4 separate regions of the Homo sapiens genome follow, and regions 2, 3 and 4 are each linked to region 1. Evidence: fine-mapped expression QTL. A gene starts in region 1. Each other region holds a variant in brackets. All regions are shown on one strand. Distances are from middle to middle. Region 1 holds the start of ATP6V1E1 (ATPase H+ transporting V1 subunit E1). Region 2 holds the start of SLC25A18 (solute carrier family 25 member 18). Region 3 overlaps ATP6V1E1 (ATPase H+ transporting V1 subunit E1). Region 4 overlaps SLC25A18 (solute carrier family 25 member 18).

What was found. PIP is the estimated chance that this variant, and not a neighbour inherited with it, causes the effect.
Region 2: its variant is fine-mapped to the expression of ATP6V1E1 in whole blood (TOPMed, PIP above 0.99).
Region 3: its variant is fine-mapped to the expression of ATP6V1E1 in whole blood (TOPMed, PIP above 0.99).
Region 4: its variant is fine-mapped to the expression of ATP6V1E1 in whole blood (INTERVAL, PIP 0.92).

Annotation. Positions count from the first base shown.
Region 1 is chr22:17,626,012-17,633,917 of GRCh38, reverse strand. It overlaps ATP6V1E1 (ATPase H+ transporting V1 subunit E1), which reads left to right and starts at 5,169. Exons shown (of 9, transcript NM_001696.4): 1 at 5,169-5,315. The coding sequence starts at 5,283. It also overlaps a transcript of BCL2L13 not described here. RefSeq lists enhancers at 5,044-5,213, 5,155-5,244, 5,325-5,474.
Region 2 is chr22:17,557,253-17,565,158 of GRCh38, reverse strand. SLC25A18 (solute carrier family 25 member 18) reads right to left here and starts at 1,661. Exons shown (of 11, transcript NM_031481.3): 1 at 1,446-1,661. LOC105372850 (a long non-coding RNA gene) reads left to right here. Exons shown (of 3, transcript XR_001755420.2): 2 at 656-890; 3 at 1,046-1,462. It overlaps CECR2 (CECR2 histone acetyl-lysine reader), which reads right to left. Exons shown (of 19, transcript NM_001290047.2): 19 at 7,008-7,906. RefSeq lists a silencer at 1,596-1,890. The variant C/T (reference allele first, on the strand shown) is at 4,295.
Region 3 is chr22:17,595,833-17,600,832 of GRCh38, reverse strand. ATP6V1E1 (ATPase H+ transporting V1 subunit E1) reads left to right here. Exons shown (of 9, transcript NM_001696.4): 6 at 738-806; 7 at 2,545-2,639. Among named protein-coding and RNA genes, the nearest start is that of ATP6V1E1, 30 kb to the left of the region's middle. The variant C/T (reference allele first, on the strand shown) is at 2,637.
Region 4 is chr22:17,586,719-17,594,624 of GRCh38, reverse strand. It overlaps SLC25A18 (solute carrier family 25 member 18), which reads right to left. Exons shown (of 11, transcript NM_031481.3): 8 at 7,324-7,489; 9 at 6,546-6,700; 10 at 4,960-5,035; 11 at 3,630-4,530. The coding sequence ends at 4,389. It overlaps ATP6V1E1 (ATPase H+ transporting V1 subunit E1), which reads left to right. Exons shown (of 9, transcript NM_001696.4): 8 at 9-96; 9 at 1,889-2,489. The coding sequence ends at 1,951. LOC101929372 (a long non-coding RNA gene) reads left to right here and starts at 5,433. Exons shown (of 4, transcript NR_171783.1): 1 at 5,433-6,758. The variant A/G (reference allele first, on the strand shown) is at 2,128.

The DNA of each region.
Region 1 (7,906 bases):
CAGTGGTCTCATCTACTAGAGCCAGCGGAAGGCTTCAGGAGCAAGCAGAAGCCATGACAGAGTTGTAAATTGGGGAGTGACTTGATGCCATCTGCCATCTAGGTTTTAAATCACTGTAGCATAGAAATTTGGCTGGAAAGAGGCAAAAAGTGCAGACACCTAAGTTAGAGTTACTATTTTTTGGCTACACTTTGTTTTTTCCTTTTCAAATTATTTGCTCAACATTTAAAGACAGATGATTTACATTTACTTCTAGTCTTTCGCGCTTTGTCCTCCTGAGCAAACTCCAGAGTTAGCTTATTTATCCTGCTGATTCAGTATCTAGTAAACCTGCCTGGGAGTAGGTGAGAGCACATGAACCGTCCCTTTCTGACTAACCTGACAGGAATCTAGGCCAGTGACTTTGGTGAAGCCACAAATAGGCTTATCTAGGAGGGAGTTTTTTGAAACTTGTCTGAAAATATGTTTTAAAGTGTCTCCACAAGGCCTAAGAATGTAGGAGAAAATTACATTTGGAAAACTACCAACTGGCTCATCTTTGCATGTATTCATAACAACTTTTTCCCTTCAGAGGTTATCTCTGTAAAGCTTACATTCTTTTCAGACAGGACCTGGCCTGTTCCTTGGTGAATCAGCAAAACTGAAGAAAATTGAGTTTTAAAGAGAAACTAACATGGGGGAGAAGTGGGTGCTGCAAAAGGGGATAGTAACTATACCTACGATTTGTTTTTCAAGTGAAGTCTTGAAGTAAATGTGACAAATGTTAATTGTTAATTTTGGGTAGTGGTGCATGGTATGGGAATAAATTATTCTTTGTACTTTTTTGTATTTTCTAATGTCTCAAAATAAAAATAAGTAAATCGTGGTCAGGCGCAGTGGCTCATGCCTGTAATCCTAGCACTCTGGGAGGCTGAGGCGGGTGGATCACCTGAGGCCAGGAGTTCGAGACCAACCTGGCCAACATGGTGAAACCTTGTCTCTACTAAAAATACAAAAATTAGCTGGGCATGGTGGCACATGCCTGTAGTCTCAGCTACTCGGGAGGCTGAGGCAGGAGAATTGCTTGAACCCGGGAGGCAGAGGTTGCAGTGAGCCAAGATTGCACCACTGCACTCCAGCCTGGTGACAGAGCAAGACTCCCATCTCCAAAAAAAAAAAAAAAAAAGAAGAAGAATCATAAAGATTATCACACTGTTTTCCAAAAAACAAAAGCACGGTTGATCTAGACAGTGCTACATCCATTCCAGATATTAATTTCAGAAACAATTTGACATGTAGAATTAGACTGCTGTTTCTACTCCCCAAATCCTGTCATTTGCAGAACACTGTAAAAATACAGGAGAGATTGTAATCAAAATGTGTTAATTCCACCTCAACCTGACCTAGGGATGCTAGAGGGTAGAATAGTCCTCTAGCATATTCCATACTCCTGCAATCTGTTTTTTAGGACAATGAAGAATGAGGCTATTAATGCAAAAGATGAACAAAATTAGACAAATAATCCAATCTAGTTTAGCTCAATAGTGATCAAGTTAAGGTCAATTGCATCAGTTTCTCTTGCCCTGTGTTATTGTTCTGTGACTAAATCCTTCCTTTATCCAGCATTATCAGTACTCTCAAATATATATACCAATATGTACACCAATCTGTCCTACAAGGAACACTGTGCACTAGTACAAATGGAAAAAATGGCAGCATGTATTAATAAATATATTAATAAATGGCAACGTTTATTGTCCTGTGGGTAAATCTTTCCTTTATCCAGCATTATCAGTATTCTCAAATATGTATACCAAATATGTATACCAATCTGTCATACAGTACAAGGAACATTGTACACTAGTACAAATGGGGAAAAAATGGCAGCATGTATTAACAGCCTTCAAAATATGTGTACCGGCCAGGCGCCGTGGCTCACGCCTGTAATCCCAAGACTTTGGGATGCCAAGGCGGGCAGATCACGAGGTCAGGAGTTCGAGATCAGCCTGGCCAATATGGTGAAACCCCATCTCTACTAAAAATACAAAAATTAGCTGAGTGTGGTGGCACGCGCCTATAGTCCCAGCTACACAGGAGGCTGAGGCAGAAGAATCACTTGAACCCGGGAGGTGGAAGTTGCAGTGAGCTGAGACTGCGCCACTGCACTCCAGCCTGGGCAACAATAGCGAAACTCCATCTCAAAAAAAAAAAAAAAAAAAAAAAAAAAAAAAATATATATATATATATATATATATATATATATATATACACACACACACATACATACACACACGTACCATTCCTACTAAAAGGACAAAGAGCTGAGGTGGGAGGATCCCCTGAGCCCAGGAGTTCGAGACTAGCCTGACAAACACTGTAGGACTCTGTCTCAATTTTAAAAATAAAATTGAAAAAAAGGGACAAACGGACATCATGTACTTTCTGATGTGTTGCAAAGAGGACACAATATCACACATGTAGTACTCCTGCTATAATGCGTAACCTGAATCTAATTATGAGGAAACTGTCAAAACCCAATTGAGGCTGGGCGTGGTGGCTCACACCTGTCATCCCAGCACTTTGGGATGCCAAGGCAGGCAGATCATCTGAGCTCAGGAGTTCCAAGAACAGCCTGGCCAATGTGGCAAAACCCTGTTTCTACCAAAAAGAAAAAATTAGCGGGGCGTGGTGGCGGGCGCTTGTAATCCCAGCTACTGGAGAGGCTGAGGCAGGAAAATCTCTTGAACCCAGGAGGTGGAGGTTGCAGTGAGCCGAGTTTGCACCACTGCACTCCAGCATGAGCGACACTCTTCTGTCTCAAAAAAAAAAAAAATTGAGTGATTTTCTACAACTGGCCTATATTCTTCAAAATGTCACTATCAAGAAAGATAAGTCTGAGGAAACTCTTCCATATTAAAGGAGACTAAAAAGACATGATCACTAATGCAGTAAGTGACCCTGGATCCAATCCAGGTTATAAAGGTTATAAAGTAAGGTTATAAGAAGGTTATAAAAGGTTAAAAAGTAAGGTTATTAAAAAAAGGTTATGGCTGGGCGCGGTGGCTCACGTCTGTAATCCCAGCACTTTGGGAGGTGGAGGCAGGCAGATCACCTGAGGTCGGGAGTTCAAGACCACCCTGGCCAATGTGTTGAAACCCCATCTCTACTAAAAATGCAAAAATTAGCTGGGCGTGGTGGCAGATGCCTGTAATCTCAGCTACTGGGGAGGCTGAGGCAGGAGAATCAATTGAACCCGGGAGGCGGAGGTTGTGGTGAGCCGAGATTCTGCCACTGCACTCTAGCCTGGGCAACAGAGCGAGACTCCATCTCAAAAAAAAAAAAAAAAAGAAAAGAAAAAGAAGGCCGGGTGCAGTGGCTCACACCTGTAATCCCAGCACTCTCGGAGGCCGAGGCAGGTGGATCACGAGGTCAGCAGTTCAAGACCAGCCTGGCCAACACAGTGAAACCTCATCTCTACTAAAAATACAAAAATTAGCCATGCATGGTGGCAGGCACCTGTAATCCCAGCTGCTTGGGAGGCTGAGGGAGGAGAATCACTTGATCCCGGGAGGCAGAGGTTGTAGTGAGCTGACACCATGCCGTTGCACTGCAGCCTGGGCGACAGAGTGAGACTCTGTCTCAAAAAAAAAAGAAAGGGTTATAAAGTACATTGATGGATTGATGGGACAAAGGAATTTGTTTTTTTTTTTTTTGTTTTTTTGAGACGGAGTCTCACTCTTATTGCCCAGGCTGGAGTGCAGTGGCACGATCTTGGCTCACCGCAACCTCTGCTCCTGGGTTGAAGCAATTCTCCTGCCTCAGCCTCTCCAGTGGCTGGGATTACAGGCACACACCACCACGCCTGTTAATTTTGTATTTTTAGTAGAGACTGGGGTTTCTCCATGTTGGTCAGGCTGGTCTCGAAATCCCGACCTCAGGTGATCTGCCCACCTCAGCCTCCCAAAGTGGTGGGATTACAGGCGTGAGACACCGCGCCTGGCCCGGGACAAAGGAAATTAATGTTCAGCCTAGTAAACTAAATTTCCTGAATTTGCTACATCCTCGTTCTTATGACACACTAAAATAGGAAGTGTGTGTGTGTGTGTGTGTGTGTGTGTGTATGAAAATAAAGTGTTAATGTACATGTAGCAAAATGTTAACAATTGTTGAATCTAGGTGAAGGGAGGTCAATGCAGTATTCTTACAAGTTACTATATCTCAAATTTCTTCAAGATAAAAAGCTAATAAAAATGGTGGGTAACCATAGCACAGTAAAAAGAAAAAAGTGGGTGTACCATTTGACCTCTTATTCTACTATTAGGAGTCAGTCTATCCTAAAGATAAAGGAATTTTCAAAAGTTTTTGCCTTTGGGATTTTGGGGAAAAAAACGGGCTTGAGGTAAATCCAAATAAAAACAAATGAGCCTGGGGGGATTTCTGTCCTAATATTCCTCTAAATGGGACCTGGGAAGGCTTTTGAAAAATATATAGGCTATCTCAGAAAAGTTCCAAATAAATTATGTAGCTGCTCCACCCTAATAAGGAAGTTGAGCATAGCTTCCCACTCCCTAGGTGTGGGCTTTGTATAGTGGCTTCCTTCCTAAGACTACAGTATGGAAAGGGGGTTAAAAAAGGTAACTTCAGAGTGGAGAAACCTACAAACCCTACACTTTATTCAGGTAATCAAGGTTGACATGAATAGTCAGAAATCATGTATCCCCCTTTTTTTTTTCTTTTGGTAGAGACGGGGTTCCTCTATGTTGTCCAGCCTGGTCTCGAACTTGAGGTCAAGCGATACACCCGCCTTGGTCTCCCAAAGTCTCCGGATTGCAGGCGTGAGCCACCACGCCCGGCCAACAATCATGTACCCCTAAGCCCATAACCCTGTGTAATTATGCGAAAAATTCCAATAAAGGCACATTCTCCAATATACCTAACCAGTACTCCTCAAAACAGCCCGACTAATTTCAGATAGAGGAACTCCTTATCTTTTCTTCCTCCTACCCAAGATCCCAGTTTAGGAAAAAAATACCGGTCAGGTCACGAGTCAGCGACGTAGAAGGACCCGAGGACGCGCCCACAGGCCGGGACAGGGCGGGACTTCCTGGGCGTCGCTCTCTTCCCATTGGCTGAGAAGGGTCATGAGGATGAACTGTGCAGTCACCTGGCAGGAACCGGAACCCGCGGTTATAAAGTAAAGGAACCCGAGATCTGCGCAGGGGTTCCCTTTGCCGATTTCTCTCACCTCACCTTTCAAACCTAAACTCGAGCCTACTGTTCACCGGCCTAGCATTGCTCTCGCCATGGCTCTCAGCGATGCTGACGTGCAAAAGCAGGTGAGGGGCTTGGTTGGGTCTTACGAAGCCGCGGCGGCAGTCCCGGGGAGTGGGCTGGAGCCCGCCTAGGGAAGGCCGCGGGCCTTGAGCCGCCCAGATGCCGCAGGAAGGTCCCTTGCTCCAAGTCACCAGATCCAAGAGGTCGGCCTGAGGACGGAGATTTGCCCCGCAGCTCATGTGACTTTTGCTCGGGTCTTGGGCACTGCCCGCTTGCCTGCGCGCTGCCTTCTTGAACGCCCTGGCTCTTTGCCTCCCACCTCAGCATTCCCTGTTTTCCAAGGGTATTCACTGTGCCTAGTCGGACAGAGATCTGTGCAAGGATTGAAAACAGCCTTGTGGCCAGGGGCAGTGGCTCACGCCTGTAATCCCAGTATTTTGGGAGGCCGAGGCGGCCGGATCACCTGAGGTCAGGAGTCCGAGACTAGCCTGGCCAAAATGGTGAAACCCCGGTCTCTACTAAAAATAGAAAATTAGCCGGACGTGGTGGCGCGCGCCTGTAATCCCAGCTACTCGGGAAGCTGAACCCGGAGGCGGAGGTTGCAGTTAGCCGAGATCGCGCCTTTGCACTCCAGCATGGGCGACAGGGCGAGACTCCCTCTGGAAAAAGAAAAAAAAAAAACAAACCAGCCTTGTCACTTTTTTTTTTTTTAACCCTGAGGGAAATGCTTAAGGCTATATGATAGGAAACAGTGCGGAGGGAAGAGACCTGCTTCCAACCAGTGTTTTGACAAGGTCGTTCACTTTATGAACTGTGTTTTTTTCTTTTTTTCTTTTTTTTTTTTTTGAGACGGAGTCTCACTCTGTCGCCCAGGCTGGAGTGCAAGGGCGCGATCTCGGCTCACTGCAACCTCCGCCCCGGGTTCAAGTGATTCTCCTGCCTCAGCCTCCCTAGAAGCTGGGATTACAGACTCGCGCCCCAAGCCCGGCTAATTTTTGTATTTTTTTTAGTAGAGGCAGGGTCTCACCATATTGGCCTGGCTGGTCTTGAACTCCTGACCTCAGGTGATCTTCCCACCTGGGCCTCCCAAAGTGCTGGGATTACAGGCATGAGCCAACGCGCCAGGCCTGTATGTACTGTTAATCTTCATTTTGGGGAAGTCCCCTCTATCATAATGGATTGTAATGATTGGTCTCCCACTAATGTGTGTGTTAACATTTGTGAGATACAGGCTGGGGCCGGGCATGGTGGCTCACGTCTGTAATACCAGCACTTTGGGAGGCTGAGGAGGGCGGATCACCTGAGGTCAGGAGTTCGAGACGAGCCTGGCCAGCATGGTGAAACCCCATCTCTATTAAAAATACAAAAAATTAGCCGGGCATGGTGGCGGGCGCCTGTAGTCCCAGCTACTCGGGAGGCTGAGGCAGGAGAATGGCGTGAACCCGGGAGGCCGAGCGACCCTGGGCGGCAGAGCGAGACTCCCTCTCAAAAAAATAAAAAAAAAAAGATTGTCTGGGCCTAGTGGGGTGCGCCTGTAGTCCCAGCTACTCAGGAGGCAGAGGCAGGAGAATCGCTTGAACCCGGCAGGCGGAGGTTGCAGTGAGCCAAGATTGTGCCACTGCACTCCAGCCTGGGTGACAGAGTGAGACTCCATCTCAAAAAATTTTAATATTAATAAACACAAATACACGCCAGGTGTGGTGGCTCACACCTGTAGCCCCCAGCACTTTGGGAGGCTGAGGTGGGAGGATCGCTTGATCCCAGGAGTTCAAGACCAGCCTGGGCAACATAGACCTTATCTCTAAAAAATTTTTTCTTAAAAAATAAGCCAGGCTGTCTGGGCATGGTTGCTCATGCCTGTAATCCCAGCACTTTGGAAGGCCGAGGTGGGCATATCACCTGCGGTCAGGAGTTCCAGACCAGCCTGGCCAACGTGGCAAAACCCTGTCTCTACTAAAAATACAAAATTAGTGGGGCGTGCTGGCATATGCCTGTAATCCCAACTACTAGGAGGCTGAGGCAGGAGAATTTCTTGAACCCGGGAGGTGGAGGTTATGGTGAGGCGAGATCACACCATTGCTGCCTGGGCAACAGAGCGAGACTGTCTCAAAAAAAAAAAAAAATTGCCAGGTGTGGTGGGGCACACATGTGCTCCTAGCTACTTAGGGAGGCTGATGTGGGAGAATCATTTGAGCCCAAGGGGTCGAGGCTGCAGTGAGCTATGATCATGCCACTGTGCTCCATCCTGGGTGAGAGAGCAAAAGACCCTGTCTCTAAAAATATTAAATAAATAAACAAAATTGTGTCAAATGGAAGACCGCTTTTTCTTTTCTTTCTTTTTTTTTTTTTTTTTTTTTGAGACGAAGTCTCGCTCTGTTGCCCAGGCTGGAGTGCAGTGGCATGGTCTCCGCTCACTGCAAGCTCCACCTCCTGGGTTCATGCCATTCTCCTGCCCCAGCCTCCCGAGAAGCTGGGACTTACAGGCGCCCGCCACCACGCCTGGCTAATTTTTTCTATTTTTTATTAGAGATGGGGTTTCACTGTATTAGCCAGGATGGTCTTGATCTCCTGACCTCGTAATCTGCCCACCTCGGCCTCCCAAAGTGCTGGGATTACAGGCATGAGCTACCGCGCCTGGCCAGGACCCCTTTTG
Region 2 (7,906 bases), 69 kb after region 1:
ACAGTGAACCGAGATTGTGCCACTGTACTCCAGCCTGGGTGACAGAGCAAGACTGTCTCAAAAACAAAACAAAACAAAACAAAACAAAAACAGAATGAGTCTGCACAGAGTGACAAATGAGGCTGCAGGCAGAAATAAGAGCATCCCGAGGGAGGGCTCCTGGGCTCAAGCGATCCACCCACCTCACCCTCCTGAGTAGCTGGGATCACAGGTGCACACCATCAACCTGGCTAATTAAAACAATTATTTTTTTGTAGAGGTGGGGCCTCATTATGTTGCCTGGGCCTGATTTTTTTTTTTTGGAGACAGAGTCTTGCTCTGTCCCCCAGGCTGGAGTGCACTGGCTCAATCTTGGCTCACTACAACGTCCATCTCCCAGGTTCAAGTGAGTTTCCTGCCTCAGCCTCCCGAGTAGCTGGGACTACCACACCTGCTACCACGCCTGGCTAATTTTTTGTATTTTTAGTATAGATGGGGTTTCACGTTAGCCAGGATGGTCTCCATCTCTTGACCTCGTGATCCGCCCGCCTTGGCCTCCCAAAGTGCTGGGATTACAGGTGTGAGCCACCGCGCCCCAGCCAACTTAAGTCCTTTCTAAAAATTTTTTTTACTTTATATAAACTGTTTGTATTCTTTTTTCTATGCTATGCCTCAGGTTTGAAGATGTTCAGCTCAGATTACCTGCATCTAAGGACCAAAATGTAAATGCCAGGGCCATTCTTCCAGGTCAGTTTGCATCAGAACCATGCAGGTTGCATCTGTTGCTAGTTACAAGAGAGAGCTAGGCCCTTCTTCAGTTTAAGGTCTTAGGCGGGATGCCAAAATCTGCATTTCCAGCAAGTTCCCAGATGATGGCCAGGCTACATTGTGAGAACATCACAATAGATCATGTGAGTGAGAATGATCAGGGCAGGCTGAGGTGGTGGGGAGAGGAACACCATCACTTCTCCCAAGCTGCAGTTTCTGCAGATCTACGCTGCCTTTGGGAAATGTTTAGCATCACACTGGACATAATTACTTGCGCTGCATTTTCTGAATTACACAGTCTTCGTCTTAGAGTGGAGCCAGGGCAAAAGAGGAATTCAAGCTGGAACAAGGAGTCCGAGAAGACGCGACTGCTGGACAGAACAAGCGATGAAGCCAGTCCCCAAACTGATGAGCCCGCAGCTCCATCCAAATTAAATGGGCTGAGAACACCAACACTCCACCCTCCCGGTACGATTGCATGGCAGGGAGGAACCAAAAATATTTTTCCTTCATCTGCTATCTCAGCTAAGCAGTACACTCTTTCTAGCACCTCACTAGAGTCCAGTTTTTCTGTATTCTGTATTCACAATACAGGTTTATTATGAACTCTGAGCAGATGAGGCTATTTTTCCCCCTTTTGGTTTCTTAGTAACTAGGCAAAGTACAAGGCTCACGGTGGGTATTTAATAAATACTTACTGACAACTTGCCTGCAAGCGAGTCGACGTTCATCTCAGTTGTTGAGGCACTCACGGGCCAGGCTTCACTCGACTCTTCTCACTGCCTACTCAGTTCCTTCTCAAAGCAAAGCCCGTGGATATATCCAAGGAACTGGCTTCATTGCTTTTAAAAATTCTGTCCAGCTTTAACTGGCTAGAATAGGGGTCCTCGTCCTTGTCATATGCTGTCCAGAATGAAGTCCAAATCCAGGATTCTGGGAGCATGTCATGCTTTCTCGAACCTGCAGGAGTCTCAAGGGCACCTGCATTGATATGCATGTCATGGCTGTAGAAGGGGGCTGGCATTGCAGCACACAATAGCCAAATCTGGGGATTTTCCAGATGCCTTCGCCTTCTTGGCTAGTATTTTTCACTGAAGGTTTTTTATAAAACTGCTTAAGGAAACTAGGGGAGTGAGCATTGCTAGCAGAAAGGGGACTAAAATAGATGCACAGAGGTCCCTTAAAAGTCCAAAGGAACACCACGAGGCCAGGGAAACATCTGCAGGGTCAATGCAGAGAAATCAACAGCAGTTGTGGGGGAGGACAGTGAAGGCAGCCACACAGCAGGCAGCTGCTGCTGGGTCACCCAGGGCTCTGCCGCGGCTCCATGAGCGCCCAGAAGGAAAGGTCCCATGATACCTCTTGCATAACAACTGCATGACATAGGCCGTTCACCTTCCAGGAAGATTCCAGGGTAAAGATCAGCCCCCAAATAGCCCGTCTGGATGGTTATTTTCTCAATTCCGTTGGTAGCACTCTCAGAGAACATAGAGTATAGCAAAATGGAGCCCACAAAGGGGCTGATTTATAAAACTTGCGTTGCCTTTCCTTCCAGTAACACGAATTGGTTTAGAGACAAGAGACATTAATCTTTAACAAGAGAAGCACCTATGGATGTCTCCAAATGTCAAAATAGAAAGTTGATCAGAACTTTTGAGACTAATCTACAGTAACAATGTATAGCTTCCTGTCTCCCTAAATCTTGCCCGAGTAGCTTTTATGCTCTTATTTTAAGAAGCTCACTGTGTAGGATTATCTGTGTAAGATATATTTACCCAGGATGCTTAACAAGCGTTAAACAGTAACAGTTCCAAAAATAGAGCCACATTTACACTGCCTACTGCACTGTTTTGAAACAGTTAACCAGTGGAAGATGCTAACTTTTGGTACATATATTTGTTGCTGGTTTTGGCCCGAAGAAGATAAATCTGGAAGCACTCTAAATGGCTAAGTTCCTTATAAAAAATAAAGGCCGGGCACAGTGGCTCACGCCTGTAATTCCTAGCACTTCGGGAGGCTGAGGCAGACAGATCACTTGAGCTCAGTTCTAGACCAGCCTGGGCAACATCGTGAGACAAAAAATTAGCTGGGTGTGGTGGGGTGCCCCTGTAGTCCCAGCTGCTTGGGAGGCTGTGGTGAGAGGACTGCTTGAGCCCGGGAGATTGAGGCTGCAGTGAGCTGAGACCATGCCACTGTACCTAGCCTGGGCAACAGAGTGAAACCCTGTCTCAAGAAAAATTAAAGCCTATCTTTTTTTTTTTTTTTCATGTTGTGAGAATTTAATAAGTCAATGAACATAAGGTGCTTAGAACCAAGCTTAGGGTATGGAAAACAGAGAATAGATGTTTCTTGTTATTCTTTTTTTTTTTTTAATTTATTTTTTTATTGATAATTCTTGGGTGTTTCTCACAGAGGGGGATTTGGCAGGGTCATGGGACAATAGTGGAGGGAAGGTCAGCAGATAAACAAGTGAACAAAGGTCTCTGGTTTTCCTAGGCAGAGGACCCTGCGGCCTTCCGCAGTGTTTGTGTCCCTGGGTACTTGAGATTAGGGAGTGGTGATGACACTTAACGAGCATGCTGCCTTCAAGCGTCTGTTTAACAAAGCACATCTTGCACCGCCCTTAATCCATTTAACCCTGAGTGGACACAGCACATGTTTCAGAGAGCACAGGGTTGGGGGTAAGGTCACCGATCAACAGGATCCCAAGGCAGAAGAATTTTTCTTAGTGCAGAACAAAATGAAAAGTCTCCCATGTCTACTTCTTTCTACACAGACACGGCAACCATCCGATTTCTCAATCTTTTCCCCACCTTTCCCGCCTTTCTATTCCACAAAACTGCCACTGTCATCATGGCCCGTTCTCAATGAGCTGTTGGGCACACCTCCCAGACGGGGTGGTGGCCGGGCAGAGGGGCTCCTCACTTCCCAGTAGGGGCGGCCGGGCAGAGGCGCCCCTCACCTCCCGGACGGGGTGGCTGGCCGGGCGGGGGGCTGACCCCCCACCTCCCTCCCGGACGGGGTGGCTGCCGGGCGGAGGGGCTCCTCACTTCTCAGACGGGGTGGTTGCCAGGCAGAGGGTCTCCTCACTTCTCAGACGGGCCGGCTGGGCAGAGACGCTCCTCACCTCCCAGACGGGGTCGCGGCCGGGCAGAGGCGCTCCTCACATCCCAGACGGGGCGGCGGGGCAGAGGCGCTCCCCACATCTCAGACGATGGGCGGCCGGGCAGAGACGCTCCTCACTTCCTAGATGGGATGGCGGCCGGGCGGAGACGCTCCTCACTTTCCAGACTGGGCAGCCAGGCAGAGGGGCTCCTCACATCCCAGACGATGGGCGGCCAGGCAGAGACGCTCCTCACTTCCCAGACGGGGTGGCAGCCGGGCAGAGGCTGCAATCTCAGCACTTTGGGAGGCCAAGGCAAGCGGCTGGGAGGTGGAGGTTGTAGCGAGCCGAGATCACGCCACTGCACTCCAGCCTGGGCACCATTGAGCACTGAGTGAACGAGACTCCGTCTGCAATCCCGGCACTTCGGGAGGCCGAGGCTGG[C/T]GGATCACTCGCGGTTAGGAGCTGGAGACCAGCCCGGCCAACACAGCGAAACCCCGTCTCCACCAAAACCAGTCAGGCGTGGCGGCGCGTGCCTGCAATCGCAGGCACTCGGCAGGCTGAGGCAGGAGAATCAGGCAGGGAGGTTGCAGTGAGCCGAGATGGCAGCAGTACAGTCCAGCTTCGGCTCCGCATGAGAGGGAGACCGTGGAAAGAGAGGGAGACCGTGAGGAGAGGGAGAGGGAGAGGGAGAGGGAGAGCTAAAGCCTATCAATAGCTAAATATGTCAAAAAACATTCTGGCCTTTGTTTGGTGAGAATTCATGTCACGGTAGGAGGAAATCTGAAAGTTAGGAATCAAAGTTTGCATGCATTTTAAGGGTGTGCTGCTGATATGCACAGGGAGTGGGTTTGCTAACGCCATCCCAGCCACTGATGCAGCTGGACTGGGCTCTAGGAAAGCTGACAGAACAGTGAAGGAAGCCAGGCCAGAGTGGTGCTCCCCCCACCCACTGGGAGAATCCATCGAGATGCACAATTTGAGTAGCATCATGTCTGATCTGGGGTTTACTAGTGATTTTTTAAGACAGGATCTCACACTCTTGCCCAGGCTGGAGTGCAGTGGTGCGATCTCTGCTCACTGCAACCTCTGCCTGCAGGGTTTAAGCAATTCTCCTGCTTCAGCTTCCTAAGTAGCTGAGATCACAAGCGTGTGCCACCATGCCCGGCTAATTTTTGTATTTTTGGTAGAGACGGTTTCACCATGCTGGCCAGGCTGATCTCAAACTCCTGACATCAAGTGAGCCACCGTGCCCAGCCTGATTTTTCACTTTAAAGTTGATTTTTGTTTTGTTTCAGAAATTACACTGAAATGCAACTACTAAACAAGAAAGTACGGTTGGCATAAAATGTTTTATCATAGAAACACTTTTCATGGGAGAATAACTGAACAGTTTTAAAATAATACCAGGATAAAAGGCTCAAAAATTTGTTAGCCAGTAACAACAGAGTATCAGTGGGGACAATCAGACACCAAACAACTGGAGGTTAAAAGGAGAGTGAACAGATCACTGCCTAGAAAGGGACAGCCCCAAGCATGGGTTTGGAAACGGGTACTAATTGTGGTGAAATTTTTATGGAATGAGGATTACTTCCACAGCCAATTACAGATGCTCCTCAGCTTCCAGTGGGGTCACCTCCGGATAAACCCATCATGAGTTGAAAATATTGTCAGCTGGAAATGCACTGAATCCACCTAACCCACCAAATATCACAGCTTAGCCTGCCTCAAGCATGCTCAGCAAACTTATGCTAGCCCACAGTTGAGCCTCCTTTTTTATTTTTATTTTTGAGACGGAGTCTTCCTGTCGCTCAGGCTGGAATGCAGTGGCGCGATCTTGGCTCACTGCAACCTCCGCATCCCAGCTTCCAGCGATTGTCCTGCCTCAGCCTCCCAAGTAGCCAGGATTACAGGCACCCGCCACCACGCCCCGCTAATTTTTGTGTTTTTAGTAGAGGCAGGCTTTTGCCATGTTGGCCAGGCTGGTCTCGAACTCCTGAGCTCATATGATCTACTTGCCTTGGCCTCCCAGAGTGCTGGGATTACAGGTGTGAGCCAGCACACCTGGCTGAGCCTCCTTTATCACACAGTGTTGAATATGTCATGGAGTTTATTGAATACCGTACAGAAGGTGAAAGAGAATTGTTGCACGAGGACTTCAAGTACAGTTTCTGCAGAATGTGTCTCATTTTCAAAAACTCCTAAGTTGAATGATCATTAAACTGGGACAGTCTGCATTTAAGGACAAAACAGGAGTTCTGGTGTCTTAAGACTGTAGCTGATTTCTAAGAATGTAGCTACTTTCTTTTTTTGGGACACAGTCTCACTCTGTCACCCAGGCTGGAATGCAGTGGTGCGATCTCGGCTCACTGCAAGCTCCGCCTCCCGGGTTCACGCCATTCTCCCGCCTCAGCCTCCCGAGTAGCTGGGGCTACAGGTGTGTGCCGCCACGCGCGGCTAATTTTTTGTATTTTTAGTAGAGACGGGGTTTCACCGTGTTAGCCAGGATGGTCTCGATCTCCTGACCTCGTGATCCGCCCGCCTCAGCCTCCCAAAGTGCTGGGATTACAGACGTGAACCACCGCGCCTGGCTGAATGAAGCTACTTTCAAACTGTTCTCCCAGTAACTGGAAATAAAACATAAATGACCTTGGCAGGTATAAGATTGCCCGCTTGCTTAGGCTGGAGCTCCCACTTCTGGCCATGTGTGTGCACAGCGGGCTCCAGGCTGGAGCTGCCCCGCTGCCCCACTGTTATACTCCTTTCCCATCCCAGGCACCCTAAAGCCTGCAAGGAGAGAAGTCGTGCACCTCAGGTGTAGTAACCTTCTGAAGGCGGACGCCTTTACCAGTGAGATGCTGACGGCCGGGCCAGCTTCGCAAGGATCGGCTGTGAGGAGCGTTTTATCCCTGACATGGTTTAGAACTGCCAGTCAGTACATGACTGTTTTGAAGTTCTCTGGAACCATATTCCTCTGTCTCATGCACAGGACCCGTGCCCCGCCTCCGTGGATTCTGGATGCATGAGAATGGACGAGGGGTGGCATTTCAGCTGGTGGCCTTGTGGCCTAGTTCACGCCTTCGTCCTGATGGAAGTCTGGGTTTGCCCTGATATGGAAATGACACATGGACAGACACACCACACACACAGAGGAGCCTTGCTATTTTAAGCATGTACTTTATACAAAATAACCAGTTCATATGGAAATAAATCTACAGACCTCCAAGGATCAAAAAGCTTTTTAAAAAGTTCTTTTAAAAAATTATCCAACACACAATATTGAACTAACTATTGAGGTAAGTGTCGCTCTCAGTGAAACAGGGAATCAGCAGACCACGACAAAATATACACAATATAAAAATAAATAGCATTCCCCTTTCCAGTACTGGCCAGAAGGTTCACATGGTTTCTGCTTTTGCAGCAGGAGCAGAGGCTCCAGACACTGTGTGCCAAGGCTGCTGGGGACTGACCGGGGCCCCAGGAGCTACGCACAAGGCAGGAGAGTGAGGTACCTGAGCCCTGGCTAGGGAAGGGAAAGGAAGGGAAGGGAAGGGAAGGGAAGGGGCTGCATGGTTTCCTGAACGGGGGTCAGCATTTCAATAACTTATGCAATATCCATACCCCTGCTCCCACCCCACCCACCCCTGTCAACAACACAAGCAAGGACAATCAACTGCTCGTCAGCCGTTCTGACGTTAGAGTTCAGTTAGTCCTCTTGTGCAGGACAAGAGGGAGAAACTAGGTAGGAAAAGGTCAAGCCGAGCCCGGAACAGTCCCTCCGCACATCTGTCTAGCACAGAGCAGGATCAACATCCAGCCTGGAGGCAAAACTTGTGTCCCAGCTTAATTTAAAAAATGAAGGTCCGGTGTGTTGGCTCACGCCTGTAATCCCAGCATGTTGGGAGGCCAAGGCGGGTGGATCACCTGAGGTCAGGAGTTTGAGACCAGCCTGGCCAACATGGTGAAACCCCGCCTCTACTAAAAATACAAAAATTAGCTGGGAGTGGTGGTGCGCGCTTGTAGTCCCAGCTACTTGGGAGGCCGAGGCAGACGAAT
Region 3 (5,000 bases), 32 kb after region 1:
GGGTCAAATTTGCTTGCAATGGCTAGCTTTAAATTCCCTTAATTTGATTTTGCCACTAAAATACTTGCTTTAGATTTAGGATTCAGACCAAACACTGTATATGTTTTAATTGTTTACTGCTGAGCTGTGAATCCTTATTTTACTTATGTTAATTACAATAATATTTGTCCTCAGCTTGGTTGATGTAATATAAGATGTCTGCATGAATTTTGTTTCTATCACCAAAGGTTTGGGTTCATTTATCTGGTTTGGGATAGATAGATCTTTCCATGGTCTTATGTGATATATGCCATCTGTTAGTGGAACTTACCAGGGGAAATTTTTCCAACCTAAATGAAAGAACTGTAGAAGCATCTTATTTTACTGTTGCTTTATTTTATTTTATTTTTATTTTTGGAGACAGAGTCTCACTCTGTCAGCCAGGCAGGAGTGCATTGACATCATCTCTGTTTACTTCAACCTCCGTCTCCTGGGTTCAAGCCATTCTCTTGCCTCAGCCTCCTGAGTAATCTGGGATTATAGGCACATACCATCATTCCAGGCTAATTTTTTGTATTTTTAGTAGAGATGGGGTTTTGCCTTGTTGCCTAGGCTGGTCTCGAACTTCTGAGCTCAGGCAATCCGCCCGCCTTGGCCTTCCAAAGTGTTAGGATTACAGACCTGAGCCACTGTGCCCGACCTGTTTCTTTATTTTATAGTTTGCATTTTCTACTGACTGTATCTACTATTTCTTCCAGGGTTTGTACCAGTTGCTGGAGCCCCGAATGATTGTTCGTTGCAGGAAACAAGATTTCCCTCTGGTAAAGGTAAAGAACTTAGGATAATTTTTTCCCTCCCTCCCTCCCCCCTCCCTTTCTTCCTTCCCCTCTCTCTTTCTTTTCCTTCCTTCCTTCCTTTTCTTTTTTTTTTGGTGGAGTCTCACTCTGTTGTCCAGGATGGAGTGCAATGGCGGGATCTCCACTCACCTGTAACCTCTGCCTGCCGGGTTCAAGCGATTCTCCTGCCTCAGCCTCCCGAGTAGACTAGCTGGAATTACAAGCGTGTGCCACCATGCCTGACTAATTTTTGTATTTTTAGTAGAGGGAGGGTTTCACCATGTTGGCCAGGCTGGTCTCGAACTCCTGACCTCAGGTGATCCACCCGCCTCGTCCTCCCAAAGTGCTGGGATTACAGGCATGAGCCACCGCGCCTGGCCGTAAAAACCCACTTCTATCTTTTATTCCAGGGATCTAGTTTCCTTTTTTTTTTTTTTTTTGAGATGGAGTTTCGCTCTCATTTCCCAGGCTGGAGTGCAATGGTGCGATCTCGGCTCACTGCAACCTCTGCCCCCCCGGGTTCAAGCAATTCTCCTGCCTCAGCCTCCCAAGTAGCTGGGATTACAGGCATGCACCACCATGCCTGGCTAATTTTTTGTATCTTTAGTAGAGACAGGGTTTCACCGTGTTGGCCAGGCTGGTCTCAAACTCCTGACCTTGTGACCTGCCTGTCTCAGCCTCCCAAAGTGTTGGGATTACAGGTGCGAGCCACCGTGCCCTGCCTTTCTTTTTTTTTTTTAATGGTGGTAAAATACACATACCATTTTAACCATACATTGTGCCATTAAGTACATTTACAATATTGTGCAGCCATCACCACCATCCATCTTCAGAACTTTTCCATTTTCCCGTACTGAAACTTTGTGCTCATTAAACACTAACTCTCCATTATTTCTCTTCTCTTCTCTTCTCCCCCATTCACCTCATATAAGTGGAAACATTCAGTATTTGTCTTTTTGTGACTGTTTCATTTCACTTAGCATAATGCCTTCAAGGTCCCTGTAGGGTGGGTCAGAATGGCCTTCCTTTGTAAGGCTGAATAATATTCCACGGTATGGATGCCCCACGTTGTGTTTATCCGTTCATCTGTCACTGGACACTTGGGTTACTCCCACCTTTTGGCTGTTGTGAATAATGCTGCTGCAAACATGGGTATACGGATATCTGTCCTGCTTTCTATCCGTTTGTCTGTATACCCAGAAGTAGAATTGCTGGATCATGTGGTAATTGTGTACTTCATTTTTTGAGGACCTATTATACTGTTACTTTGATAAGAACCATCCTTATGGGTATGGCATGGCACTGCTGTTTCTGGTGCCTGCTGTCTCCCCCTCATCTGCAACTGCCAGTTGAAGCTCATGCCAGCAGCCAAACTTCTCTTCCCTCCCTTCTCTCCTTACCTACCCCCAGCTTCTAACACTCTCAGCTGGGGGAATAATGTATCTTCCTCCTGCTGATCCATGTTTCAAATGTAATAACTGCCTCTGGTGTGTTTAATCACCTGCCAAGCCCTGTTAAATCTTGACAGAAACCATTCGCATCTCTTCCCTCCTGTGTGCAGACTGTCATTTCTCCTCAGTGGCCGTGCCGTTTTACATTCCCACCAGCGGTGCCTCTGTTCTTTTACCTGGGATAAATGGAGGTATCCTTGCTTGTATAGTCTGTTGAGTTTTTGGATACTTGCTTCATAGTTCCTAGTGACACCTCTCATTGTGTTCTATACTTCCAGGCTGCAGTGCAGAAGGCAATTCCTATGTACAAAATTGCCACCAAAAACGATGTTGATGTCCAAATTGACCAGGAGTCCTACCTGCCTGAAGA[C/T]ATGTAAGGAGTATTCCTGCTGCTAACAGCTACCTTCTCTCCCTGGGAGAGTGGCCTTTATACCAGGCCTTTTTTAAATGGTATTTTCACCATTTAAACGCACTCTTAGACACAAGGCTAGAGCTGTGGTGTATTCTACTTGCAGCCGTTCCTGTTGTTCTCGCAGTGCTCTCTTGCTCTCCCTTGTTGGCTGGCTAAATATACTCTAAAAGTCTAGTTTGGCCAGGTGCGGTGGCTCACGCCTGTAATCCCAACACTTTGGGAGGCTGAGGCAGGTGGATCACAAGGTCAAGAGATCGAGACCATCCTTACCAACATGGCCTAGGGAGCTAGACTCCCTATCATACCAGTCCACCCTCTGCTCATAGTCCAGTCCTGTCTCTACTAAAAATACAAAAATTAGCTGAGCGTGGTGGCGCACGCCTGTAGTCCCAGCTACCCAGGAGGCTGAGGCAGGAGAATTGCTTGAATCCAGGAGGTGGAGGTTGTAGCGAGCCAAGAACACGCCACTCACTGGACTCCAGTATGGCGACAGAGCAAGACTGCATCTCAGAAAAAAAAAAGTCTGGTTTATGGTCACTGCTTTCCTTCTGCGGGGAGGTGGCCCCCAGAATGAAAGCTAGGACCAGATCTCTGTATTGGATGCTGAGGTAGATACTCCCTTCTTCTAAGTAATAGTTATCAAAACAAGAATTGTGTATGCCTGGTAGTTAGGTTCCTTAGAGATAGAATTGCAAGTATGAGTGGTATTTTTATGACTGTGAGGAAATGACAGAACATTTCTGGGATCAGTGTTCCTAACAAGCTTTGTGTAGCTGGGGTAGGCAGTAGAAACTCCTGACAAGGGGAGAGCCAGTGTCATTTTCTCGATTTCACTGGCCTGTCTGAGGCCACCTAGCCACACTACTGACTAACATTGAAGAAAGTACCTTGGACACTTTTTTTTTTTTTTTAAGACAGGCAGTCTCACTCTGTCACCCAGGCTGGAGTACAGTGGCATGATCTTGGCTCACTGCAACCTCTGCCTCCCAGGTTCAAGCGATTTTCCTGCCTTAGCCTCCTGAGTAGCTGGGACTACAGGCGCCTGCCACCACGCCCAGCTAATTTTTTTGTATTTTTAGTAGAGATGGGGTTTCACTGTGTTAGCCAGGATGGTCTCGATCTCCTGACCTCGTGATCTGCCCGCTCGGCCTCCCAAAGTGCTGGGATTACAGGCGTGAGCCACCATGCCTGGTGCCTTGGACACATTTTGAAGTTAGCTGATTATCACACTTAGGAATGTAAGACCTAGATTTGAGTCCTATCTTGGCCTTTTGCTACTATGGGACCTGGAGACTGAATTCATCATATGTAAAATAGGATCATTGCTTTTTGCTTTTTTGTTTCATGCAGTGAAGAAAAAAAGATGAGATAGTACATGTGAAAATGCTCTGTAAATGGAAAAAGTATATAAACTCATAAGATATGCTGTCAGAGTTGGGTTAGATTCCTGATTCTGCCACTTACTACCTGGGTAATCTTGGACTCGTTTATTCAGTTTCATTGAGTGGTGTCGTCCATTTAGTGTTGCTATAACAGAATACCCGAGGCTGGGTAATTCATGGAGAAAAGAGGTTTATTTGGTTCATGATTCTCATGGCTGGAAAGTTCAAGATTGGACAGCTGCATCTGGTGAGGGCCTCAGGCTGCTTCCACTCATGGCAGAAGGTGGAAGGGGAGTGGGTGTGTGCATAGAGACCACATGGCGAGAGAGGAGGCCAGAGAGCCTAGGGAACCAGACTCCCTATCATACCAGCCCACCCTCTGCTCACAGTCGAGTCCTGCCGGAGCTAGAATCCAGGCCCTCGCCACAGTTCATTGCCTCGGGATCTGCCCTTGAGCCCTGAACACCTCCTACTATGCTCCACCTCCCAACACTGCCACATTGAGAATCAAATTTCACCATTAGTTTCTGAGGGAACAGACTCAAACCATAGTAGTGAGCCCTGATTCCCTTATCTGTAAATTGACGTATTAGCACTAACCTCATAGCATTTTTTATCTTATTTATTTATTTATTTATTTTTTGAGACAGAGTCTCACTCTCACCCAGGCTGGAGTGCAGTGGCACGACCTCGGCTCACTGCAAGCTCCACCTCCCAGGTTCACACCATTCTCCTGCCTTAGCCTCCCGATTAGCTGGGACTACAGGCACCCGCCACCATGCCTCGCTAATTTTTTTTGTATTTTTAGTAGAGACGGGGTTTCACCTTGTTAGCCAGGATTGTCTCAATCTCCTGATGTCGTGATCTGCCCACCTCGGCCTCTCAAAGAGCTGGGATTACAGGCGTGAGCCACCGCACCCAGCCTCTTTTTTTGTTGTTG
Region 4 (7,906 bases), 39 kb after region 1:
TTTTGCAGAGCTGGTGGAGTTGAGATCTATAATGGAGATCGTAAAATAAAGGTTTCCAACACCCTGGAAAGCCGGCTGGATCTCATAGCCCAGCAGGTGAGTGTGGGGGTACTTCTTGGTAGTTGGTCTGCTGTTACTTTGAAGTGGGACAGAGAACACGTGTCCATTCACTGGTATTTGGGATTTGTTGCTGTCTTTCCAGTTTTGGACATTTTCTCAAAAAGAATGAGAATTGGGCATGTAGTAGCATTTGCTGAGGTGGTAACATTTACATGAGGGTGAATTTGGGGTCAGAACAAGTGTTTTGTTGACCTAGGATTCGAATATGTACATTTTACTACATGTAAGGTGCTGACAAGTTCTTTCTCTAACAGGAGTGATGGGAACTAAAGCAAATACTTGTGTTTTTTTGTTTTGTTTTGCTTTTTTGAGATGGAGTTTCACTCTTTTTTGCGCAGGCTGGAGTGCAGTCTTGGCTCACTGCAACTTCCACCTCCCAGGTTCAAGCGATTCTCCTGCTTCAGCCTCCCGAGTAGCTGGGATTACAGGCACCTGCCACCACACCCGGCTAATTTTGTATTTTTAGTAGAGACGGGGTTTCACCATGTTGGCCAGGCTGTTATCAAATTCCTGACCTCAGGTGATCCACCCGCCTTGGCCTCCCAAAGTGCTGGGATTACAGGTGTGAGCCACCGTGCTCAGACACAAATACTTATTTAAAGGAATTATCATAAAGCTGCTGGCTTTTCAGATGTTTCCAGATTTGTACACAGGAACTCTAGGAAACAAGCCAGGAAAATTCCATTTGTTCTAAAATGCTGGGCATCTTCTAGACTTCTAGTGGGAGTCTATTGCTGTGGCTGCCAACCTAGTTATTCCCTGACCTAGATATGCAGTTTACTGTTTATGCAGATACTTGTCTTATAACTAAAGCACTTTCACCTTGATTTTTTCATATTCTGGTAACTTAAACCTCAGAACATTGTTTCCTAGTAGCCACTGTCCCATCCAGTATCATAGCCACTACTCACTTACGGATATTTAATTAAACCGAAAAATTCAGTTTCTCAGCACACAATAACCATCTGTAGCTAGGACTGCCCTGTTGGACAGCCGAGCCTTGGAAGTCCAGGGTTAAGTTCTCCTAAGGATTCATCAGTGGCTGTAGCAAGTGCTTCCAGCCTAAGCTGGCATTGGAAGTGTTCTTTGCAGCTGCTGTGGCCATAGTAGGCACTCAGTAAATGTTTGTTGAAGAAAGAGTGTAGGTGACCCAGCATATTGTGGTGAGATGATTATGATGAGTTAAGTCTGAGATAGTAGTGACTTTAGGTTTTTTTTTGTTTTGTTTTTTTTTAATGTGTCCCTTTTGTAAGCAGTCTGAACCCCAGATTTGGGATGAGTTAAGTTTCTCACCAAGGAATGTGTTACTTGCTTCAGGGAAGGAGAGGGTGGCTTTGATGTGCGTGGCTTTGTGAGTCCTTCCCAGCCACATAGAGGTTCATGGCTTTCCACCTGTGGTTAAGATGTGCAGCACTCTGGCCAGGCTTGGTGGCTCACGCCTGTAATCCCAGCACTGTGGGAGGCCGAGGCGGGTGGATCACGAGGTCAGGAGATCGAGACCATCCCGGCTAACATGGTGAAACCCCGTCTCTACTAAAAATACAAAAAAATTAGCCAGGCATGGTGGCAAGCACCTGTAGTCCCATCTACTTGGGAGGCTGAGGCAGGAGAATGGCGTGAGCTTGCAATGAGCGGAGATGCGCCACTGCACTCCAGCCTGGGCGACAGAGCGAGACTCCGTCTCAAAAAAAAAAAAAAAAAAAAGATGTGCAGCGCTCTACAACTTCTTCAGCTGACATTGCGTATTTATTACACTTTCTCTCCACAGATGATGCCAGAAGTCCGGGGAGCCTTGTTTGGTGCAAATGCCAACAGGAAGTTTTTGGACTAAGCCTTCAGGAGGTGGAGCTCGTCGTCAGCTCTCCTGCTGTGATGTGGAAGCTTCTGATATTTGAAGAAACACGAATGTCTCTGTAGCTTCCTCTTCACTGCCCCAGTATTGCTCTGTATTTATCAGCGATGCCCCTCTGTCACTCATGCCTTGCCTAATTGTTCACAATGGTGGAA[A/G]GCTTCATGTAATATGATCAGGACCCACCTCCAGTTCTTCTGAAAGTGTGACAGTGTCCAGCCGGTTCTGCAGCACTAGGGGAGGGGGCAGATGGTGGTTGCATGGGCTTCCTGGGTCTCCACTCTCCGTCTGGCCTAAAGGTGATGTATTTGGTGTTTGGCCCTGCAGTCCCCACTCTTGAGGCTTAAGGCGCATGTGGCACACCACTCCTTCCAGCAGTAGTCGCTTTACTGTTACCTGTTTAGGCCTAGAAGTTTTCCCTCATCTGTAAATGTGATTTAAAATCTAAGCCATGAATATGCTTTATTTATTAAAAGAGTTATGCGGATTTAATGTGATTTCTAGTGTAAGGCACTACAAATTTAGGTTTTGACAGAGTCAAATTCTTACTGAGGCACCTAGAAAAGAAGTATTTTCCCAATCCCCGTGGCACTTGATGGTGACAGCTGTCAGCACCTGGACCCGTTAACCCTCTGGGGGTCCCCTGGGCTGTTGCCCGTTGTTCCCAGCCCATCACCAGGAGCATTCTTTCCACCCTTGCAATCTTCCACACACCCCACATGGCTCTTCAGCGTGACGTGCACAACTTTATTGAGGAAATAGTTTTATTAGTGTTGCCCGAATGAGAAAAACCAAGTTGTTTGTTTTTTCTTTTTCTTTTTTTTTTGAGACGGAGTCTCGCTCTGTTGCCCAGGCTGGGGTGCAGTGGTGCCATCTCGGCTCACTGCAAGCTCCGCCTCCCGGGTTCGTGCCATTCTCCTGCCTCAGCTTCCGGAGTAGCCGGGACTACAGGCGCCCGCCACCACGCCTGGCTAATTTTTTGTATTTTTTGGTAGAGACGGGGTTTCACCGTGTTAGCCAGGATGGTCTCGATCTCCTGACCTCGGATCCGCCTGCCTCGGCCTCCCAAAGTGCTGGGATTACAGGCGTAAGCCACGGCGCCAGACCCAAAAAACCGAGTTATTTTGGAGCAGGTCACTGTGTGCTGGAACCAGATCCTTTCACAGAGGCCCTGTTCTTCCTTCCCTGTCCCATGTTTTATTTTTCCGTAGGTGACGACTAAGAGCTGCCCAGGGCCTTGCAGCTAGTACATGGTGGAGCTGGGACTTGAACTGAGGTCTGTCTCCAGGGCCCATACTCAAATGCAGTTCTCATAACAGAGAGTGAGGCCCCCAGGGCTGACCATGTTAGCACCATCCTCTTCCTTGTTAGCCCAGGTTTCACAGTAGATGGGACTATTGTAAACACCAGCTCCTGCAGCAGGTGCTGATTTTCTTAGGACTTGGCCCTGCTGCTGTGACATTATCTCTCCTGTAGCAGCCTTTGGGGGAGGAATCGAGGTGCGTGAGGAGGGCTCTCACAGCAAACTCAGCTCCTCAAGACGATTCACTTATGAAGGGATAGAATCAAGGCTTAAAACCCAGTGTCACTAACAAGCAGATATTTCCCTATGGCTGTGTTCCTCCACCCCCACAAGTAACAGTTTGAAGAGTGACGGGGGTCTGCTTCTATGCCCTTTTTAATGTTTGGTTTTGAAATGGACGTAGAAAAGTAGATGGTGATAGCATTCACTGCAGCCTATCTGCTGTACCCACTGATGAACAGATGAGATTTTAGCCATTCACCTTTATTTCAGAGTGTTCCTTGGTTACAGGGAGGGGTGTGCAAGACCCTGGGCTCTGGGGGAGGGGCTGAGCTGCCCAGTCAGAGCCGGCCTCAGCCCCCTCAGCCATCCAGGGATTCGAAAGGGTGCTTGGTCTCAAACTAGGTGCTGACTCTGAGGGCTTTCACGGTCCCTTGAACTTCTGATCCTCCTTTTCCTCAAAATCAGTGCTAGGACTCATAAGTTATGGAGTCCAAGATTAACAATGCTAAATCCTCAAGCTGACTGAAGAATGCCGAGTTTGACTGTGAAATAGAAATGTTAAAATACAGAAACAACCCTTCTATTGTGACTACCTGTTAAGGTCCTGCAATTAATACAACGAAAGTACCATTTTTGTTGAAAAGTAGGTGGTTAGGGGCTTCCAAAAGCCCCTGGTAGCTGTGCCCACAAAGGAAAACGAGTGTAGACACGAAGGGGAAGAAGGCTGTGCTCAACTTGTTAGAATATAGGGCTGTTTCTCCCGAGATTGAGGTAGCACTACAACGCAGAGGACCAGGCAGGCCAGAGTGGCCCCACCTGCCCTTGCCCCCTCTAGGCTAAGTGAAACAGCTAGAGAGAGGGCGGCAAGCGCAGGGACTTGACCTCCAGCTCTGTCTAGTCAAAACACTTTAAGATGCGCTCTCCAATCCCAATAAAATAGACCCCTTGAGCAATCCCAAAGAGAGGTGCTATGACCAGTGCCCGGCAGCCAGCGCCTTTCATGAAGGCAGATGGTCCCTCCTGAATCCAGAGTTTCCTGGGGAGAAAGAAGAGCCAGTGAGCTGATGGGCAGGGGCATTCTGCAAGCAGCCCTCAGTGGCAGCCTCTCCATTTGTGCACCTCTCATTTTAGAATAGTGCCTTCCACAACAAGAGCAAGAGGCCAACGGTGTGGGAGCTGTGCCTCGCCCGCTAGGTGCATGCAGGTTGGTTACTTATGCAGTTGGGTCAAGGCCTTGGAAACAGGCTTGATGTGGCTAGAATCTTTGGTGAGAGATGCTGTAGGGATGCCAGGAAGAAGAAAAAGGCTCCCAGTACATTCTGTTTTCTTTGAGAGGTGAGGGAAAGACAGACTTCAAAGAAACCCAGAGCCCAGCAATTCAAGTTGGTCTCTAAATCTGGTCTAGGCAGACACCCACGCAGAGGAACCTGTCCCAGCCACCATTTGAGGGGACACTGGCTCTCACCTGGCACAGTCGGTGATCCCACTGTACATGTCCTCGCCCAGGCCTTTCTTGAGGGTTTGGATTCGAGTTTTCAGAACTAAATCAAGTAAAAGTTAAAGTAAGTAGTGAACAGCTTACTTTCGGTGTCCTCCCCTCAACACTAAGGGGCTGGGCCCTCCTGTAGAGCCACCACATATAAAACTGACTCATAGGCCGGGCGCAGTGGCTCACGCCTGTAATCCCAGCACTTTGGGAGGCTGAGGTGGGCAGATCACAAGGTCAGGAGTTTGAGACCAGCCTGGCCAACATAGTGAAACCCCATCTCTACTAAAAATACAAAAATGAGCCGGGCGTGGCGCGTTCCTGTAGTCCCAGCTACTCATGAGGCTGGGGCAGGAGAATCGCTTGAACCAGGGAGGTGGAGCTTGCAGTGAGCCGAGATTGTACCACTGCACTCCAGCCTGGGCAACAGAGCAAGACTCCATCTCAAAAACAAAAAAAGAAAAAAAAAAACGGTCATGAGGCCAGTTCTGCCATTGTGTGATCTGTAAGTGGAGGTCTTCTTCTTTGGGCCTCAGCTATAAAATAAATGAGTCATGTTACTGTGGCTTTGTTTGGTTTTGTTGAGACAGGGTCTCGCTCTGTTGCCCAGGCTGGAGTGCAGTGGCACAATCAGCTCACTGCAGCCTCAACCATCTGGGCTCAAGTGATCTTGCCACCTCAGCCTCCCGAGTAGCTGGGACTACAGGCACGCACCACCACACCCAGCTAATGTTTTCATTTTTTTTTTTTAGAGACAGGGTCTCACTTTGTTGCCCAGGCTGGTCTCAAATTCCTGGGCTCCTGTCTCGGTCTCCCAAAGTTTCGGGATTACAGGCGTGAGCCGCCGCACCTGGCCAGGTTACTGTTGGTATAGGAAGTCTACCCGCAAGTTTAGGGAGCTGGAGGCAGCCCTAACACGGAGGGAAGCATTGTCTTCTCATGCCAGGTTTAGCTCCCACCATTAGCCGCAAATTTTATGTATTTATTTACTTTTTGAGATGAAGTCTTGTGCTGTCGCCCAGGCTGGAGTGCAGTGGTGTGGTCTTGGCTCACTGCAACCTCCACCTCCTGGGTTCAAATGATTCTCCTACCTCAGCCTCCCAAGTAGCTGGGACTACAGGCATCCGCCACCACACTCTGCTAATTTTTTTTGCATTTTTAGTAGAGACGGGGTTTCACCATGTTGGCCAGGATGGTCTGAAACTCCTGACCTCAGGTGATCCAAAAGTGCTGGGCTCCCAAAGTGCTGGGATTGCAAGCGTGAGCCACCACACCCAGCCAGCCCCAAATTTTAACACATCAGCAATAATTTATAGCTGGGGCTCACAACTCTTCTGAGGGGATGAAAAGCTAAAGCAATCAGCATCTTGAAGGCGAGGGATGTGTCAGGGATGAGAAACAGAAGGAAGGTCTCTTGGGACCCACTTTCTCCATGAGGGCCTCTAGTGAGCCTCCGCCAGCAGCCAGATTGCAACCCAGTATGGCTTCCAGGGTCAGGCTGTTTTATCTATAAGTGCAAAATTACTGTTTATCCCATAGAAAGGACACGTCTCCCAACTCCTTACCATCTAGAGGCGTCACTGCGACCGCAGCTATGGAACCTGCCACACAGCCTGACACGAAGGAATGTGCAAAGGACGCCTTACCGGCGAGCTCGTTGAACCCCAGGTTGTTAAGGTTGGCAAACAGTGGGAAGTAGATGATGGAGAAAGGAATGTCTCTGCAGAAGAGGAAGGAGAAACACTGAGCTCCGAGCTGCCCTGGGGCTGCCACCCAAGGTGAGACAATGAGCTTTGCTGTGAGCTGTGGGGCTTACAGTGAGAGGAGCCACGGGGACTCATCCCTTCTTTTGTGCCCCGTGAGCGTGGGTGAGGGACAGCAGGGGACAAAAGAGCTGTTGCCATCTGTTCCGCCGTCCCAGCTCCTTCCTCTGCCCTGCAGCACCTGCAGCCTCTTGACTGCCAGAGGCAAGTCCGAGGCGGGAAATGCGTTCTGTACAGGGGCAGGCAGGCTAAGGGAAGATGAGGGGCCTGGCCACTCATTACTATGAACTCTGCGGTCCTCTGTAGACAGGGCTTTCTTAGGTGCCTTTGGGCCACAAAACACCCAGCCTTCCTGTGGGCCTGGTCATCACTATGCAAGCGGCCTAAAACTTTAGTCTTCTAGGTACCCATTCTGTGCCACCCTGGCCAGTTCCAGACAAAACAGGAAGCATGGAAATCGTTTGCTCACCTGGGTTTGGATATTCTGGGAAGGACACAGAGGCAGATAGGGACAACCAGCTCTCTGGCCCTCGTGCCCTCCCCCGTGCACTTGTCCTAGGGAACCGGAAGAAAGGCTCACCTGAGGAGAGTGGCACCCAGGCCCCTGTAGAGCCCAGCCAGGCCCTGAGTGCGGAGCAGCTCCCAGGCAATGAGGGTGGCAGAGGGGCGCCTGTGGGTGGAAGCCGAACCAGTTGTGTAGGACCTGGAGGTGGAGGGTGCTGAGGCCGAGCCCTGATGATGGACGGCTGGAAGGGAAAGGACAGACATCAGTACCTGGTCCCCAACAGATGCTACGAAACACTCCTGAGTGTGGCTCTCAATCCCTGCCCCTGGGACAGTTCAGAGGCCAGGCTGACACCTCAGCTGGCATCCAGAAGAATGTCCTAATTTTAGAATGTTAATTTTTGGCTCTGAGGACGTCTTCCTAAGGTCTACAGTATCTCAGGAGCTATCCCAATGCTGAGAACACTTCCCAAGAGCACAGCCACAGCCTGGCCCGCTTGCTTCTCCGCCACGTTCCTTAGGGCTCCATTCCTTACCCTCCCATTAAAACTGGTTTTGATCTGGCTTCCATTTCTAAACCATTTCTCAGCCTATGTAGGTCATTTTTATTTTTAGTTATTTTATTTATTTTTTTGCAGTGGTGCGATCTCGGCTCACTG